Linked DNA regions of Homo sapiens. The protein of the gene in region 4 purifies or fractionates together with the protein of the main gene of each other region. This does not show direct contact. Each region holds a gene or a part of one and is shown on either strand. Other genes may lie near its edges. The genes, in order: NAXD, CMBL, DFFA, FAM111A and DFFB.

What was found.
Region 1: the proteins of FAM111A (region 4) and NAXD purify together in Homo sapiens (affinity purification with mass spectrometry; one large-scale study listed by BioGRID and IntAct). This does not show direct contact.
Region 2: the proteins of FAM111A (region 4) and CMBL purify together in Homo sapiens (co-immunoprecipitation; one large-scale study listed by IntAct). This does not show direct contact.
Region 3: the proteins of FAM111A (region 4) and DFFA purify together in Homo sapiens (co-immunoprecipitation; one large-scale study listed by IntAct). This does not show direct contact.
Region 5: the proteins of FAM111A (region 4) and DFFB purify together in Homo sapiens (co-immunoprecipitation; one large-scale study listed by IntAct). This does not show direct contact.

The regions. Positions count from the first base shown.
Region 1 is NC_000013.11:110,614,044-110,618,359, forward strand, and holds the start of NAXD (ATP-dependent (S)-NAD(P)H-hydrate dehydratase), read left to right. Parts: upstream 1-1,501; 5' UTR 1,502-1,548; coding exon of another isoform or gene 1,549-1,558; coding exon 1,559-1,604; exon of another isoform or gene 1,605-1,631; coding exon of another isoform or gene 1,632-1,731; exon of another isoform or gene 1,732-2,310; intron 2,311-4,316. UniProt on the Homo sapiens protein: Catalyzes the dehydration of the S-form of NAD(P)HX at the expense of ATP, which is converted to ADP.
Region 2 is NC_000005.10:10,301,403-10,304,918, reverse strand, and holds part of CMBL (carboxymethylenebutenolidase homolog), read left to right. Parts: intron 1-1,884; exon of another isoform or gene 1,885-2,035; intron 2,036-2,123; exon of another isoform or gene 2,124-2,280; intron 2,281-3,516. UniProt on the Homo sapiens protein: Cysteine hydrolase. Can convert the prodrug olmesartan medoxomil into its pharmacologically active metabolite olmerstatan, an angiotensin receptor blocker, in liver and intestine. May also activate beta-lactam antibiotics faropenem medoxomil and lenampicillin.
Region 3 is NC_000001.11:10,466,026-10,469,541, reverse strand, and holds part of DFFA (DNA fragmentation factor subunit alpha), read left to right. Parts: intron 1-203; coding exon 204-365; intron 366-2,209; coding exon 2,210-2,352; intron 2,353-3,516. UniProt on the Homo sapiens protein: Inhibitor of the caspase-activated DNase (DFF40).
Region 4 is NC_000011.10:59,145,849-59,149,364, forward strand, and holds part of FAM111A (serine protease FAM111A), read left to right. Parts: 5' UTR 1-8; intron 9-2,855; exon of another isoform or gene 2,856-2,948; 5' UTR 2,949-3,024; coding exon 3,025-3,105; intron 3,106-3,516. UniProt on the Homo sapiens protein: Single-stranded DNA-binding serine protease that mediates the proteolytic cleavage of covalent DNA-protein cross-links (DPCs) during DNA synthesis, thereby playing a key role in maintaining genomic integrity.
Region 5 is NC_000001.11:3,870,969-3,874,484, reverse strand, and holds part of DFFB (DNA fragmentation factor subunit beta), read right to left. Parts: intron 2,014-3,516; coding exon 1,913-2,013; intron 1,472-1,912; exon of another isoform or gene 1,348-1,471; intron 1-1,347. UniProt on the Homo sapiens protein: Nuclease that induces DNA fragmentation and chromatin condensation during apoptosis. Degrades naked DNA and induces apoptotic morphology.

The DNA.
Region 1 (4,316 bases), on a different chromosome or scaffold from region 4:
GGGATTACAGGCGCCCGCCACCATGTCCGGCTAATTTTTTGTATTTTTAGTAGAGACAGGGTTTCACCGTGTTAGCCAAGATGGTCTCGATCTCCTGACCTTGTGATCCACCCGCCTCGGCCTCCCAAAGTGCTGGGCTTACAGGCATGAGCCACCACGCCCGGCCTCTTCATAATAAATCTTGCTGCTGCTCACTCTTTGGGTCTATGCCACCTTTAAGAGCTGTAACACTGTGAAGGTCCGCAGCTTCATTCTTGAAGTCAGTGAGACCATGAACCCACCGGCAGGAACTAACTCCACACATAGTTATAGTTATCTCTTGATTATAGGCTAAATAAGGAGGGGATTATTCATGAGTTTTCTGGGAAAGAGGTTGGCAATTGCTGGAACTGAGGGTTCCTCCCCTTTTTAGACCATATAGAGTAATTTCCTGATGTTGCCATAGCATTTGTAAACTCTCATGGCGCTGGTAGGAGTGTCCTTTAGCATGCTAATACGTTATAATCAGCAAATAATGAGCAATGAGGACACAGAGGTCACTTTTGTGGCCATCTTGGTTTTGGTAGGCTTTGGGCCAGTTTCTTTACTGTGTCATCTTATCAGTGCGGTCTTTGTGACCTGTATCTTGTGCCCACCACCTCATCCTGTGGCCAAGAATGTCTAACCCCCTGGGAATGCAGCCCAGTAGGTCTCACCCTCATTTTACCCAGTCCCTATTCAAGATGGAATCGCTCTGGTTAAAAGGCCTCTGACATGTTGAGCCATCCTTTCACCTCAGCCTCTCAAGTAGCTGGACTACAGGTGTGCCACACCATCCCCTGCTAATTTTCCAAAAAAATTTTGGTAGAGAAGGGGGTCTCCTTATGTTGTCCAGGCTGGTCTCAAACTCCTGGGCTCAAACGATCCTTCCATCTTGGCCTCCCAAAGCATTGGGATCACACGCGCGAGCCACCGCACCTGGCCCCACAAGTTTCTTTTAGCACCATGACGGTGGCTTCAAATAGGGCGGCAGTGGAGGTAAGAGGCCATCAGCCACAGGAGGAGCGTGGGTGGGAGGGCAGGAGAGGTCAGAATGCCTTCCAGGGGTTTGGGCCTCAGCGTTGGAGTGATGGAGCTGCCCTGACCTGAGACGGTGGAAAGCGAAGGGGCCTCGCAGCGAGCTGGTTTGGGGTTCAGGGCAGAGGTTGCGCCTGGAGCAGAAAGGCACCTGACTGCTATACTGGGGGCACATAGTGGGCCTCGGCACTCCACCTGCCAGCAAAATCATTTTCTATAACGCCGCAAGCCTAAAAATGGGCCGATAAACACAAACCAGACCCTGAACCAGATCGTTGTTAACTCTTCAACCTGCCTTCCAGCCGAACCTCTTAGGCCAGAGCTGGGACCAGGCCGGGTTGGGCGTCGCGCTTGTCAATCATCTAGAACCGGGTGTGATTGAGCGAGTTGGGATCCCACTGCCGACAGCCGCGCGGAGGCGGTCGGGAAACCGGAAAACGCTTCCAATGGCTGTGTTTCCGGCGACGGCGCGGGGGCAGCTGGGAATCCGGAATGCTGCCCGATGGCCCTGGGTCCTCGCTGTGGGGCAATCCGGGCTTGCAGACGAGGTAAGGTCGATTCCATTTGGCCCGGGGATGGTCACACGCGCGGGGGCCGGAACTGCCGTCGCCGGCGCGGTCGTTGTCGCATTGCTCTCGGCCGCACTCGCGCTGTACGGGCCGCCACTGGACGCAGGTACCCGACCGCTGACCGCCTCTGCTGGCTCGCGGGGGGGAAGCGCCGCCGAGGGGCAGCCCGCGCGCGGGGCCGGGGCGCCGTGTGGCCTGCGGGGCGGAGTAGGGAGAGGACGGAGGCCTCCTGGAACGGCGCGGCGACGGCTGGGCGCGGCTTGGGTGATGGGAGCCTCCGTGCGGGGTGACAGAGGGGCAGAGGGTGGCGCCGGGCCGGAGCCAGTGCGCGTCCCAGGAGCGGCGGAGCCCGCGCGGTGGCCGGGGAACGGGGGGCCGAGGGCCGAGGACGGTAGGAGGGCCCTGGGGCGCCGTGGTGCGCTGGTCGGATCCGTCTGCTCTGCTCTGTCCCCGCTCCCGGTCTGGGAAAGATGCTCGCCAACTGCGGGCTTGCTGTTTGGTCGGAGCTGGATACGGGGGCCCTCCTGGGGCCCAGGGACGCGGCGGGCGTGCAGGCGAGCTGGCCGGCTGAGCGGGCTTCGCGCACACCAGGAGCAGGGCCGTGTCTGCATCCCCAATTTGAAGTCCCAGTGCGACTGGGCAAGTACAGACCCTGCACGTCCTTGGACGAGAGGGACTGGATATTGCGACGCCTGGGCCGCAGAAAAGGACTCCACCAGCCAGGCCTCCTTCGCCCGCCCCCGGTTCGGGGTGTGTGTGTGCGTGTAGGAGGTCCCTTGGGGAGGGAGGCTCACCTGAGTCATCCCCAGAACCTGAAGTGCTGGCCAGATGTCCCCGAGGGCCCTGCCCTGGCCTTGGCTGGTCCTTGCACGCTGAGATGCCTTTTCAAATAGAACGGATAAGGTAGAAAGAATTTAAACAGGAGCTGAGCAAGTGCTTGGAGCCCCATCTCTTCATAGGGTTTTTTTGTCTTTCTGTTTGCCTTGTTGGTATTGGTGTATCTAACATATTTTATACAGGAAGTAGTTCGTGTATATCTCATTTCTCATAAGGAGAGATTGCTGTTATCCACCTTGGTATAGAAGATAAATAGAAGCTCAGAGAAAGTGACTTAGCCAGGATTCTCCAGCCAGTGAGTGGCCGAAATGGTTAAACGCACCATTTGTTGCTGTAGTCATTAGATAGATTTTACCTTGTGTGTATGTTGGGCATCGTCAGAGAGTTTGGCTTTTTGTTTTCATCAGCACACACTGAGAATGCACTGGGTGGCGCTGAGAGGGTACTCTACACTGCACCTCACTCACACCAGCAGGGAGGCTTCTTAACACTTTATTTAGAGATTTATTTGTAGCTCTTTACCTTAAATTCACACACCGTGATTAGTAGCAAGATTTTTCATTGCGCTTGGTTGAGGATTTATTATCAGACTGCCTAAACTTTTACGAAAAGCCAGGTAGAGTTGTATATTACTGAGGCTTTAGGAAATATTTCAGTTAACTTAGGGATTGTGGTTAAATGCTCTAAATTAGTTATAACTCACATTAACTTAAAGTATTTTTGTTTTTTTAAGTAGAATTTTCCAGTACTAAAAGCACTTTTAGCACAAAGCAGCAGTGATAGTCTTCCCCAGACACGCTTCCTTAAAACAAAAGCCAAACAAATTTAACCTGTTCTTCCAGACTCAGAATTGTCTGAAGAGTTACCGAATGGGATACATCTTAAGTCGCCTATTGTCAAGGCCTTTTTATCCTTCAGAACTTTGATCTTTATATGTAAATGTTTCTGTGTTAACATTTGAAATGTTAAGTTCAAATGGTGACGTCAGTAAGCCAGCTGGAACTTGCTTCACTGCCAAGTGCTGGGAAGTTTAGTTGACCTGCTTTGGCCCTTTTGCTAACAGAAGCTGTTTATCTTAGGTGAATGCTGGTGAGCAGCCTGGATTTTACTTTGTGTTAATACAATTCTATTCAAGTGAAAATGCTATACTTCTTATTTTGCCTTAAAATGGCAGCATTTTACACCTACTGTGTGCCCACAAAAATAAAAACAAAAACATGGCAGCACTTTGGTAAAATAGTGTCTTGTGGCCTGGCTTGTCCATTACTAACCACAGCATCTGCACAGGTTTCTCTCTGGGCCCCAGTTTCCTTATCTGTAAAAGAAAGATAAAGTGCTAGTGAGGAGAGTGAATCACGATGTCTTGACTTCATCGAACATGTATCAAGTGTCTTGTTCTGTGCCAGGCTGTGTTCGAGGTGATTGAGTCCCACATGGAAGCAGTCAGTGCTGCAGCTTGCGGATGGTGCCACATTCCTCGTGGGCAGGCAGTAGTAGGGTGCTGATTCTCTGCCAGTCCAGACATAAGAACTTCCTTCTTATGTCCAGGTCAGCCCCTACCATGTAGGTTGTCTGTGTGCTCGAAAGGTTTCAGAACCCCACATGTAATAATAGTTACTTTTGGTATCACTTTGAATTTTTAAAATTATGTAGCAAAAAAGTTACTATTAATTATATTATGAGTTTAACATAATTTTAAGCTAGCTTCCATTTGAGAGCCGTTGTTCTCATGTGTAAATCTTGAAATATTCAGTTTCTGGATGGCGCTTCTTGTTCTCCAGGGTTCTTAGACCCAGCCCTTACGGTAGCATCATGGCCAGGGAACTGGGAATCTCACAAAGTCTTAAGATTTCA
Region 2 (3,516 bases), on a different chromosome or scaffold from region 4:
TGGGCTGTCTGATTCCAGCTCCATTCATTGTACTTGAGCCATTTTTAGGAGTAAGTGGCAGATCTGATAGATCTGTAAATTCTATCCCGTTTCCATGCAGAATTAATGGACTCTTTCCCCTCCTGTGGAAAAAAGTTAAAAAAAAAACATGTTGTCTAGGCTGGTCTCTAACTCCCAGCCTCAAGCAATCCTCTTGCCTCAGCTTCCCAAAGTGCTGGGATTACAGGTGTGAGCCACTGCGTTTGGCCAAAAAGATATTTTGTCTTCATTTGCAATTCATCTCAACATTTCTTTTGTCAACTAAAGAATGATGAGTTTCATAAATTTGGAAAAAGAGAGCTTTATTTCTCATAAAGTGTTGCAGCCCGCAAAGCGGCCATTCTGACAGGCTGGGAAGTGTAGTCTCTGGCCAGAAGCTGGAAACAGACCCTTCCAGTGTGGGAAGAATAGTACAGGGATCTGTGCTGAACAGTGTGGCCAAACACACAGATTCAATAAGCTATAGGAGGGGTTATGAATTTTTAAAATAATGGATTAGCTAATACTTTTGAGACAGGGTTTCATTCACTCCCCCAGGCTGGAGTGCAGTGGCATGATCATTGGCTCACTGCAGTCTTGACCTCCTGGGCCCAAGTGCTCCTCCTAGCTCAGCCTCCTAAAAGGCTGGGACCACAGGTGTGTGCCACCAAGCCTGGCTAATTTTCTAATTTTTTTTTTTTTTGTAGAGATGGGGTCTCCCTGTGTTGCCCAGGCAGGTCTTGAACTCCTGGACTCAAGTGATCCTCCTGTCTTGGCCTCCCAAAGTGTTGGGAGTATAGGCATGAGCCACTGTTCTCAGCCATGAATATTTTTGAAGGAGAACCGTGTACGTGGGCAATTGAGCTTTTTGCCTCTTCATGGGAGCCATGTTCAAAAAATGACTGCGTTAGCATGATCCAAGGGTGGTATTTTTGGCCCTCTGTTGTTAAAAGCTGAAGCAGAGGACACAAAAATCCTTACTGTGCACCCTCTGTAGACAGGCCAGAACCATGTCATGGTTGGTGTTTTGTTATCAGGCAAAAAGGAGGGCAGTGTCATGCGGCTGGGTGATATCAGTGTGGGGTTGTTTGAAGAGGCTAGTTTCTGTTTAGCCTTTAGAAAAGAAAGCCTCATGGTGATTAGTGAGTCAGGAGCGGATAATGAGAGGTGTGTGATCCCCCAACCCATAACTATATAACTGAGTTGTATGGCCAATAACTCAGTTTTTAAGGTTATTCTGGGGTCTCCTTGGTGAAGAGATGATCCAGTCAGTTGGTTGGGGGCTTAGAGTTTTTAGTTTACACTTTCCAGTGCTGCATTTGTGCTCTTTTGATTTTCCTTCAAGCCTGTTAGAACATCTGTTAGTTTTTTCCTGTCGTTCAAGTAGAGTACAATCCTCAATGTTGTTTGTTTTTATATCTGTTGAAGAGTGATGGTTTTACTTCTTTCTGAAAATTATCTTTTAATAAATACATGTGTTGTTGACAGAAGGAAGTCAAACTCTGTAAAATGTTTGAAGAGGTTTATTCTGAGCCAAATGTGAGGACCATGACCCATGACACAGCCCCCAGAGGGCCTGAGAACATGTGCCCAAGGTGGCTGAGTTACAGCTTGGTTTTATACATTTAGGGAGACATAGGAACTCGATCAATACATGTGAGGTATACATTGGTTCAGTCTGGAAAGGTGGGACAACTCAAAGATCGGGGATGGCAGGGTCAGGGTGGTAGCTTACAGGTCACAGGGGGATTCAAAGGTTTTCTGATTGGTGCTTGGTTGAAAGAGTTAAATTAATAATGAAAGACCTGGAATCAATAGAAAGGAGGGTCTGGGTTAAGATAAGAGGTTTGGGAGACCAAAGTTCTTATTATGTAGGTGAAGTCTCATAGATGGCTACCCTTAGAGGCAATAGATAGCAAATGTTTTCTGTTCAGACCTTTAAAAGCTGCCAGACTCTCAGGTAATCTTTTCAGGATCAGAAAGAGACCTGGAAAGGGAAGGGGATTCTCTACAGAATGTAAGTTTCCCCTACAAGAGATAGCTTTGCAGGGCCCTTTCAAAATATGTCAAAAATATTTTGGGGTAAAATACTTGATTTGTTTCAGGGCCTGCTGTCTATATCCTTGGATGCTGTATTTGAGTCAGGTTGGAATTTCATACCTTATTTCTACAAAAAGTCTGTTTCGTCAGTCTTGAGACCTCTGTTTGAATGTTAATGCTGGTCATTTGTGCCTGAACTTCAATGGAGGAGGGAATAATGAGGTATGTTGGACTCCTCCTTCCTGTCTTTTTTTTTTTTTTGAGACAGAGTCTCGCTGCAACCTCCTGGGTTCAAGCGATTCTCCTGCCTCAGCCGCCCAAGTAGCTGGGATTACAGGTATGCACCACCATGCCTGGCTAATTTTTTTTTTTTTTTTTTAGTAGAGACAAGGTTTTGCCATGTTGGCCAGGCTGGTCTTGGATCCTTGCCTCAAGTGATCCACCAGCCTTGGCCTTCCAATGTGCTGAATTATAGGCATGAGCCACTGAGCCTAGCCCCTCCTTCCTGTCATGGCCTGAATTAGTTTTACAGGTTTCTTTGGAATCGCCTTGGCCAAGAGGAGAGGTCCATTCAGTTAGTTGGGATGCTTGGAATTTTATTTTTGGTTTACAGTGCATTTGCAGGAGGAAGCTAAAATCCTGAAAGGTATATACAGAAAATATAGTACAGTTAGTTGAGAGTCAAGGGTATGTTCCCTGAGACTTGCCAGGGTAGAAACTGTTCGCCCTGCCCATTGTGGACTTGGCCCCTGGCACAAGGCGTGGCCTGGCTGCTGTGCCCACGTGGAGGGTCTGGGCAGGAGTCCAGCCTTCGACACACACGGGCGTCTCCTGTAGGAGAATAACCTTGCAGGATCAGCCTAGAGGGCTGCTCGCCTGGCTGTAAGCATTCCTTTTGCAAAATGGATGTCAACTGAAAATAAAGTAAAAACATTCAGATTAGAGGCTTCCTGGAATGGCCAGGATTTTCTGTGATCCCTAGGTCCTCATAGCCAACAAACAGCCCAGATAAGAAGTCAGCCCAGATAAGAAGTCAGCCCAGACCAGCCTGGCGAACATGGTGAAACCCCGTCTCTACTAAAAATATAAAAATTAGCCGGGCATAGTGGCGGGCACCTGTAGTCCCAGCTACTTGGGAGGCTGAGGCAGGAGAATCGCTTGAACCTGGGAGGCGGAGTTTGCAGTGAGCGGAGATCGTGCACTGCAATCCAGCCTGGGTGAGAGAGCGAGACTCCGTCTCCAAAAAAAAAAAAACCCGAAAAGAAAAAGAAAAAAAGAAAGCTCTACAGGCCTGAACTTGCTGCTTGTGTCTGAGGGGTGGGGCAGTCTTGGAACTGAGCCCTCACTGCCCCACGCGCCCCCACCCCTTACCTTTGGTCATGGTGTTGATGATCGCTGTATTGTGAGAGCAGAGGGAAACATGGCTTGAGAGTTTTTCTGAAATGGTGTCAAATGACA
Region 3 (3,516 bases), on a different chromosome or scaffold from region 4:
TACAAAAAAAAAGAAAAGAACACTTAGAACAGAATCAGGCACGTGATGAGTGTTCTGGTAGTGCTAGAAGTGATGATTGTGATTCTAGTTATTACCTACCAGGAGTTCTGCTCAGCTCTGGAGCCATACATACTTGAGATGCAGGGATAGATGTAATTTCCTTACGGTTATTTGTCATTTGCCAAATATTTTATTCTTTTCAGCCTGTGACATTCTGGCCATTGATAAGTCCCTGACACCAGTCACCCTGGTCCTGGCAGAGGATGGCACCATAGTGGATGATGACGATTACTTTCTGTGTCTACCTTCCAATACTAAGTTTGTGGCATTGGCTAGTAATGAGAAATGGGCATACAACAATTCAGGTAAGAAACTCTAGCCATGTATAAAACGGCCTATGCAGTACAGCATCCATCATGATTACTTTCACTGCACAGACAATTGCCATTTGTCTGGCTTTTTAAGCATTTGTTCAACAGATATTTACTGAGCACTTTCTATGTGCCAGACATGGTGCTGAGTCCTGGGGATAAAGATGAATGAGGCCAGGCACGGTGGGCAGATCACCTGAGCTCAGGAGTTTGAGACCAGCCTGGCCAACATGGCGAAAGTCCATCTCTACTGAAAATACAAAAACTAGCTGAGCATGGTGGCAGGCACCTGTAATCCCAGATACTTGGGAGGCTGAGGCGGGAGAATTGCTTGAACCTGGGAGGTGGAGGTTGCAGTGAGCTGAGATTGTGCCACTGCACTCCAGCCTGGGCGACAGAACGAGACTCTGTCTCAAAAAAAAAAAAAAATAGATGAATGAGACATGGGCCCAGTTCTCAACTAACTCATGGACAGACAGCAACTGAAATGCAGCCTGGCAGGGAGCTCAGTGCTGCAGGCTGCAGTCCAGCTGTTGAGGTCTGGATCCTGGCTCTACCATTTACTAACCAGGTGACCTTGTGCAAATTACATAACTTCTCAGTGCCTTGTTGACATAATAATTATAGAACCTGTCCCCTAAGATTGTTGTAAAGATAATATAGTACATATCAAACCAGGGTTTCTCAATGACACTGCTGACATTTGGGGCTGGAGTTGTGAAGAGGATGCTTTGTGTATGATAGGACGTTTAGTAGCATCCTAGATGTTACGAACCTCCCCCCACAACTGTGATAACCAAGAATAAATGACTCCAGATATTGTCAGATGTCTCCTGGGGGGCAAAATTGCTCCCACTTGAGAACCACTGATATGAAGTGTTTAGATCTTACCTGGCACATAGTTAAGGACTCAATAATTGTTACCTGTCCCTGCCATCATCATCATCACAGGAGATAGAAAGGGGACTAACATTGGTGACCAAGGATCAAGAAGTGTCTTGAGAGGGGATTAGTTTTAGGGAGGGACTTAAAAAAAAAAAAAGTGTCCTGAAGTGTGCCACAAAATTGAGGAAGTCATCCTACAGCAGTGGCCCTACCAGCCACCTTTGTGCTCAGGCCTAAGGGACAGCAATCGATGGCTACAGCTCTGCCAGTTAAAGAAGGGACCAATCCCCAAGCACAGAGAAATGCTGGCACAAATGACCGTTTTCGTATAAAAAACAGGACACACCTGGACACACAGAAACCAGAAAGGGAAGTGTGATTGGATTCCTTGTAGGTGTGACCACACATTGGGTTTAAATGGCTTTTTCTATGGAAGAATACAGAGCCGTTGCACACAGAGATAAAGATGAAAGAGGGTCAGGCACGGTGGCTTATGCCTGTAATCCCAGCACTTTGGGAGACCGAGGTGGGCAGATCACTTGAAGTCAGGAGTTTGAGACCAGCCTGGCCAACATGGTGAAAGCCCGTCTCTACTAAAAATACCAAAATTAGCTGGTCATGGTGGTGGGCACCTGTAATCCCAGCTACTTGCAAGGCTGAGGCAGGAGAATCGCTTGAACTCGGGCAGTGGAGGTTGCAGTGAGCCAAGATCGTGCCACTGCACTCCAGCCTGGGCAACAGAGTGAGACTCTGTCTCAAAAAAAAAAAAAATGAAAGAAGAGGGAAAATCAAGGTCCTGGATGGATATTGACCCTCCTGTGAATCCTTGAGATAAGATGCTTCTTTCCCATTGAAATTAATCTAGATCCTCAAGAGGTCTGTGTGTGCTGGGGGAGGAGGTGAAAACAGCACTTCAGGTTGTTCTGTGACTGGCATTTTCTCCCATGTGTCAGATGGAGGTACAGCTTGGATTTCCCAAGAGTCCTTTGATGTAGATGAAACAGACAGCGGGGCAGGGTTGAAGTGGAAGAATGTGGCCAGGCAGCTGAAAGAAGATCTGTCCAGCATCATCCTCCTATCAGAGGAGGACCTCCAGGTAAAGCCTCCTCCACAACCTGCAACAATGTTCATCCAGCCTCTGCCCCCCGCCCCAGCACCTTCTTAGCTTCCATACTTGCCATAGCAATTTCTTTGTTTTAATCTTAATTTTTAAATAATTCTTAAATTACAACTAAGATTTTTCATCTTCTCATTCTCACCTAGAGTAATTTTTCAACCCTCGTCACGAAGCAGAATTACCTGTGGATTTTTTTTTTTTTTTTTTTTTTTTTTTGAGACACAGTCTTACTCTGTCGCCCAGGCTGGAGTGCAGTGGTGCAATCTCAGCTCACTGCAGTCTCCACCTCCCGGGTTCAAGCAATTCTCCTGTCTCAGCGTCCCAGGTAGCTGGAATTACAGGTGCACACCAACACGCCTGGCTAATTTTGGTATTTTTAGTAGAGACAGCGTTTCATCATGTTGGCCAGGCTGCTCCTGAGTTCAAGTGATCCACCTGCCTCAGCCTCCCAAAGTGCTGAGATTATAGGCGTGAGCCACCGTGCCCGGCCAGATTTTTTTTTTAATACAAATGCCTGGGATCCACCCTAAACCTAGTTAGGTGGACGCTGGGGTCAGGGATGCCCTGCTAGAGAATGTAGCGTTGGAGTAGATGGCTTCACATCCCAGCGCTGTCACCACGACTTTGAGCCAGTAGCTTAGCTTCTCTCCTTGTGTTTTCTCTCTAGTAAGATTGGGATAGGCCAGGTGCAGTGGCTCACGCCTGTAATCTCAGCACTTTGGGAGGCCGAGGCGGGCAGATCACGAGGTCAGGAGATCGAGACCATCCTGGCTAACATGGTAAAACCCCATCTCTACTAAAAATACAAAAAATTAGCCGGGCCTGGTGGTGTGCACCTGTACCTGTAGTCCCAGCTACTCGGGATGCTGAGGCAGAAGAATCGCCTGAACCCAGGAGGTGGAGCTTGCAGTGAGCCGAGATCGCACCACTGCACTCCAGCCTGGGTGACAGAGAGAGACTCCATCTCAAAAAGAAAAAAAAGATTGGGATAAAAACAGTATGTTTTCATTCAAAGAAAATTTCTCTTTGAGACAGGGTCTTGCTTTGTCACCCAGTGCAGTGGCATGATCATAGCTCACTGCATCCTCGACTTCCTGGGCTCAAGCCATCCTCCCACCTCAACCTCTCAGGTAGCTGAGACTG
Region 4 (3,516 bases):
TCCCTGTGGTGAGTGTATTGATATTGATAACATTTACATGACCTTTTTATTGATTATTTACTGGGGGACCTATTACATACAGGCAGTGTTTTAAAGGCTTTGCATATGCTCTCTCTCTCTCTCTATATATATATATATTTACACACACTGTATATATAGATAGATTGCATATATAATATATATAATATGTGTGTGTATGTGTGTATATATATATTGTGTGTGTGTGTGTGACAGAGAGAGAGAGAGAGAGATGAAGTCTCGCTCTGTTGCTCAGGCCTCAGGCTGGAGGGCAGTGGTGTGATCTCGGATCACTGCAACCTCTGCCTCCCAGGTACAAGCCACTCTCCTGCCTCAGTCTCCCAAGTAGCTGGGATTACAGGCACCCACCACCATGCCCAGCTAATTTTTAATTCTTAGTAGAGACAGGTTTTCACCAGGTTGGCCAAGCTGGCCTCGAACTCCTGACTTCAAGTGATCCATCAGCGTTGGCCTCCCAAAGTGCTGAGATTACAGGCATGAGCTACCGCACCCAGACCACAATATATTTCTTAATCTTTATAACAAGGTTGATTCCCACCTTAAGGTGAGGAAAATGAAGGAAGAATAGTTAATTAATATGCCCAAGGTCATGCAGCTAGTAAGTGGCTACCTGATATTTGAACTCAGACAGTTTTATAAGTTCTAACATTATTTTAGCACTTCCATATTCATTATCTCATTTAGAATCATTGCTTCTTTTTACAAACAAGAAATTGAGGCTCAGAAAGGCTAAATGAATTTCCCTAGTCAATGACTGACAGTAAACTAGAAAGCCAGGACTCTTGTTCCATAGTGGAATGGTTACGAGAGTAAACATAGCCTTTAGATAACTTCCATTTGACAAGAAATACAGGGGCTAGAACATAAGTTAAACAATGACATGAGGAAACAACCCAGGAGGTGAACATTCTATAGAGACAATTTCTCTGTTCTCTTCAACAAATCAGTGCTTTTTCTAGAATAAAAGAGCCTTATAAGACATATAAAGGAAACTGTGTACCTCAGTTGGATCTTGGTATGAATAAATCAGTATTGTGATTATAAAAGAAAAATTATGTAATTTTTAGAGATGGGAAGTGACCATTAGCGTTTAAATGTCATGATGTTTCTAGCTGTAACATAAATCATCTAGTAAAATAAAAGGATGGTGTAAGGGTAGCCAAACCCGGGTTTGGCAACTCACACCTCAAAGCCAAACATGAGAGATGAGAGTTGGTGGGAGGAAAAGCAGGTTCATTCAGAGAGCCAGCAAACTGAGAAGATGGCAGACTAGCAACCCAAAGTAGCCTCTTAAGTGAGTACAAGTTTCAGGCTCTTTATGTTAAGGGCATGGGGAAGAGAAGGGATTTACGATCAAGAGGTGACCATTGACTGGAGACATCTGAGCACCATCAAGGATCCAAGAAGGTTGGGAATGTCTTTGTCCTGATGTTCCAGTGAGCCCAAGCATTGATTTGCTGAAGAGAACAGATAAGTTGTCTCTATAGAATGTTAATTTCCTGGGCTGCTTCTACATGTTGTTGTTTAGCTTATGTTCTAGCCCCTGTATTTCTTGTCAAATGGAAGTTATCTAAAGATTATATTTATATTTGTTCTCCAGGTCACAACCCTCCTGTAAATTTTTAACAATCCATAGTTGTTTACATACTTTCCCTTTAATCCCAGAGCTAGTTTTTAAAACTACATTTTTTTTGCATATTATCTCACTGCTCTAAAATTAACCTCCCCTCCATGCATGAATGGATAAAGACCCCGTGAACAAAAATAGAGTTCTTTATGTTAGTTCTTTTACTGTTTCACTGTTACATAAATTGGCAAAAAAATGAACAATTAACTATGTGATAGGTATGTAGAAGTTCATTATACCATTCTCTCATTTTTTCTCTAATAAATTGTTCATAATAAAAAGTCCTGAAAGTATATTCTCTGAGTTTTATGACCTTGAGTAAAAGTTTAATCTCCCTGGGTGTTCAAGCTCTTTTGCCAGTAAAATGAGACAAATAGTACCTATCTCATAGGGTTGTAAGAATTACATGAGATAGTTGATGAAAAGCACTTAGAACAGGGCATAGTACACCATATGCCTACTCCATTCGTTTATTGAATGTATCTTTAGAAATGTATCTTTTTCAAGGGCCTGACATGTCTCAGACATTGTTTTGAAATATTGAGGTACTAAGGACAGACATGGCTGCTGCCCTCAATGGTATTTATCTTTCTAGCGGTATTTATTACTATTGAAGATGTCACTATTTTATTTAAAGTTTGTTCATCCTCTTCTAGGGAGACATCAGAGGAGAGATAGAAGGAAAAATACCTCTTTAAACAAAAAATCTAAAGCAGCAACTAAGGTTTCTGACTATCATCCCTAGCAAACTTTCCAGATTTCTTTTTAAAATCTCATTCCAAGTTTCTTTCCTCAGCTCTATCCTCACCACTTCCCTGTAATTTTATCTCCCCTTGCCATCTTCATCTTAAATGAATAACAGATTTTAACATCAATGTAACTAGAACAGCTTTTTGAAATTTCCAACTGAAAATTATTCTATTATTTATACTTGCATTTGAATTCCATCTCTGCCACATAGCTCTGGCCTTGGGCAGTTCGTCTACCTTCTCTAAGCTATACTTTCCCCATCAGCAAAGTGTAGCTATACCTAATTTGCATAGCATCCGCAGGAATTTGCAGCTAGAGATAATTTTCATAAAGTGTTTAGTATAATTTTCATGAAGTGCCTGACACGCAGTGTTCTCGAAAAGAGAGCTTTTATTGTTAAGGTGATTATAGTTGGTGAATAAACTATCTATTTGCTAAGGTACCATCTCCAGGGAGAGCAAGGTTGGAGCCTAAGGGGAAAGATGGGACGCAGGACACCAGCTAATCTTTTCCTCTGTACAATTAATGACAGCTTTGAAGATACTGCTATAATTTGAAAATTTGAAATTAGTGTTTCAGCTGAACCATCCGTTCATCTTCAAGCCATCATGAGCTGTAAGAAGCAGAGGTCACGGAAGCACTCAGTCAATGAAAAATGTAATATGAAAATCGAGCACTATTTTTCTCCGGTATGTCTGTAAATTCTACTTATGTAATCTAGTCATCCCTTGGTATCCATGTGAGATTTGTTCCAGGACCTCTCTTGGATACCAAAATCCATGAATGCTCAAATTCTTCACATAACATGGCATAGTATTGGCATATAATGTATCATATCCTCCTGTATACTTTAAATCATCTCTGGATTATTTGTATTACCTAATACAAGGTAAATGCTCTGTAAAATGTTGATATACTGTATTGCTTAGGGAATAATGACAAGAAAAAAAAAGTCATGCACGTTTAGTTCAGGCACACTCATTTTTTTTTTCCCAAAATATTTTCAATCTGCAGTTGGTTGAACCCATAGATACAGAACTCACAGATACTAAAGCCTGTTTACCAATATTAGACTTACCTATCCTTGGCATTGGGTTTTA
Region 5 (3,516 bases), on a different chromosome or scaffold from region 4:
ACGTATGTGCATGTTAAACCCACACGCGTGTGGTAAAGGTGCAGCTACACGGCTCTGCAGACCACAGCGTGGGAGGCCACGTATGTGCATGTTAAACCCACACGCGTGTGGTAAAGGTGCAGCTACACGGCTCTGCAGACCACAGCGTGGGCCACCACGTATGTGCATGTTAAACCCACACGCGTGTGGTAAAGGTGCAGCTACACGGCTCTGCAGACCACAGCATGGGAGGCCACATATGTACATGTTAAACTCACATGCGTGTGGTAAAGGTGTAGCTACACGGCTCTGCAGACCACAGCGTGGGAGGCCACGTACGTGCATGTTAAACTCACACGCGTGTGGTAAAGGTGCAGCTACACGGCTCTGCAGATGACAGCGTGGGCCACCATGTATGTACATGATAAACTCACACGCTTGTGGTAAAGGTGCAGTGAGAGGGCTCTGAAGGGCACACACACCTTTCACAAGTGTTTTCCCTCGGGGCAAGGTGTAGAGGCTGAGTATGGACAGGGTAAAAGCTCAACTATGACCATAGTGTTTTACATACTTTAAAAAAAAATCTCACTCCGAAAGCAATACAGGTTGAATGTCCCCATCTGAAATGCTGGGGACCAGAAGTGTTTTGGATTTGGGATTTTTTTAGGATTTTGGAATATTTACATTATACTGACTAGCTGAGCATCCTTAAAAAAATCCCACATCTGGCCGGATGCAGTGGCTCACACCTGTAACCCCAGAACTTTGGGAGACTGAGGCGGGCGGATCACCTGAGGTCAGGAGTTCAAGACCAGCCTGACCAACATGGAGAAATCCCGTCTCTACTAAAAATACAAAATTAGCTGGACGTGGTGCCACGTGCCTGTAATCCCAGCTACTGGGGAAGCTAAAGTAGGAGAATCGCTTGAACCCGGGAGGCGGAGGTTGCGGTGAGCCGAGATCACATCATTGCACTCCAGCCTGGGCAACAAGAGCAAAACTCCATCTCAGAAAAAAAAAAAAAAAAATCCCAAATCCTAAATGCCCGGATGAGCATCTCCTCTGAGCGTCATGTTGGTCGCAAAACGTTTTGAATTTTGGAGCACTTCGGATTTCAGGTTTTCAGATTAGGGATGCTCATCCTGTACAGCCATTTTAAGGGCATTTGAAGGCTTCTGTCTTCAAAAAGCAAGGGCAAGGCTACAATTATATTCAAGGAATGCATCTCAGTTTAAAAGAATGAAGTTTTCCATCCTGCCCATTTGTTAGAGCCATAGAGCTCGTACGGCTGTGAAACACTCCTGCCTGCTGAGACTTCTGCTCATGCTGGTTCCACAAAATAAGCCAGCCAGGCATGGTGGCGAGCACCTGTAGTCCCAGCGACTCAGGAGGCTGAGGCAGGAGGATTGCTTGAGGCCAGGAGTTCAGGGCTTCAGTGAGCCATGATCCTGCCACTGCACTTTAGCCTGGGCCACAGAGCAAGACTCCATCTCTAAAAGAAAAAGAAAAAGGGAAAAACACCCTTACCTATCATAACACCAGGAGCTCCCGCTGTCTGAGCTCACCCTGGTTCAAACTCACAGAGGTTCAGAACCTCTGACAGCCAAGGGCTGGGACCTGTGTTCTGGGGAAGGACGCTGCCCACCAGCTCCATCCACAGGGAGGACTGGAGGGGACAGGAGGGCTGGCTCCGGGTCAGGTACACATGCTGACAGTGGAGGGAATGGTGTGTGCCCACTCAGCAGCCCCCTATGCTGCCATCAGGTACCCCTTCCCTGGGCTGTAACACGGGTGCAGCCCTTGAAACCCAAGGAGGCAACACCGTGGCAGGGACAGGGCCGTGGCAGGGACAGGGCCATGGCAGGGACAGGGCCACGGCAGGGACAGGGCCCTGCAGGCACTCGTGGGTCTGAACCTCGCTCTGTGAGCTTACATGTGATCCAGGTTCCAGGTGCTGAAGAGGATCCTGCTCTCCCTGTTACTGTAGGGGTTGATGGAGTGTCTTGATAAGCAGCTGTCCATGTCAAAGGGACCCTGGGGGCCAAAAGACAATGAGGGAAGGCCAGAAAGTGAGTCTCTTTTTTTTTTTTTCTTGAGACAGCGCCTCGCTCTGTCGCCAGGCTGGAGTGCAGTGGCCCGATCTCGGCTTACTACAACCTCCGCCTCCCGTGTTGAAGCGATTCTCCTGCCTCAGCCTCCCGAGTAGCTGGGACTACAGGTGCCCGCCATCAGGCCCGGCTAATTTTTGTATTTTCAGTAGAGACAGGGTTTCACCTTGTTGGCCAGGATGGTCTCGATCTCTTGACCTCGTGATCCGCCCGCCTTGGCCTCCCAAAGTGCTGGGATTACAGGCGTTGAGCCACCGCGCCCGGCCAGAAGTGAGTCTCATACAGTCTCAGTCACCGAGTGACATGCTTTGGACGTGCAGCCCCACCCAGAGCTCATGTTGAAATGTCAGCACTAGTGTGGGAGGCGGGGCCTGGTGGGAGGTGATGGATCCTGGGGGTGGATTTCTCATGAAGGGTCTAGCACCATCGCCTGGGTGCTGCCCACGCCAGTGTGAGTCCTCCTGAGATCTGGCTTAAAAGTAGCACCCTCCCCTCAATCTCTCTCTCGTTCCTGCTCCCCGCACGTGAGATGTGCCTGCTCCTGCCTCCCCTTCCACCACAAGTGTGAGTTTCCTGAGGCCTCCCCGGCAGCTGAGCAGATGCCAGCGCCATGCTTCCTGTACAGCCTGCTGAACCGTAAGCCAATTGCACCTCTTTTCTTTATAAATTACCCACTCTCTATTTCTTTATAGCAATGCGAGAATGGCCTAATACACCAAGTCAGGTGATCTTACTGAGAGACGCACCCCGTGGGGGCTGGTCCCTGCTCCAGGGTATACTGCTTTAGGGAGATTCAGAGTTCTGCCTTGGCCGGGCACGGTGGTGACTCATGCCTGGAATCCCAGCATTTTGGGAGGCCAATGTGGGTGGATCACCTGAGGTCAGGAGTTCCAGACCAGCCTGGCCAATATGGTGAAACCCCATCTCTACTAAAAACACAAAAATTAGCCGGGCATGGTGGCGGGCGCCTGTAATCCCAGCTACTTGGGAGGCTGAGGCAGGAGAATCACTTGAACCTGGGAGGCAGAGGTTGCAGTGAGCCGAGATCGCACCACTGCATTCCAGCTTGGTGACAGAGCGAGACTCGTCTCAAACAAACAAACAAAAAAAAAGCTCTGCCTTTGGAATCAGATCCTTCTTTTTCCCTCATTACCCCTAACAATATGTTCTGAGTTCCCAAAGAGGACAAGGTAGTTATTGTCACTGTTACCCGTGTGATCACACACCAGCACCCCCACCTCATGGGAAGTGAGGCCAGGAAGGTACTGACTTGCCAGGGCAGGACCAGCGCGTGAGAAGCAAGGACCCATGTCCCAGAGGCTCCCTTTCCAGCCATTGCCCGCGGCTTCCTGATGTTTCCCTGTGATCCCAATGCAGAGGCAGGGCTGCCTCACTGAAGGTGCCATGGCCACAGCTTCCGTCTTCCCTG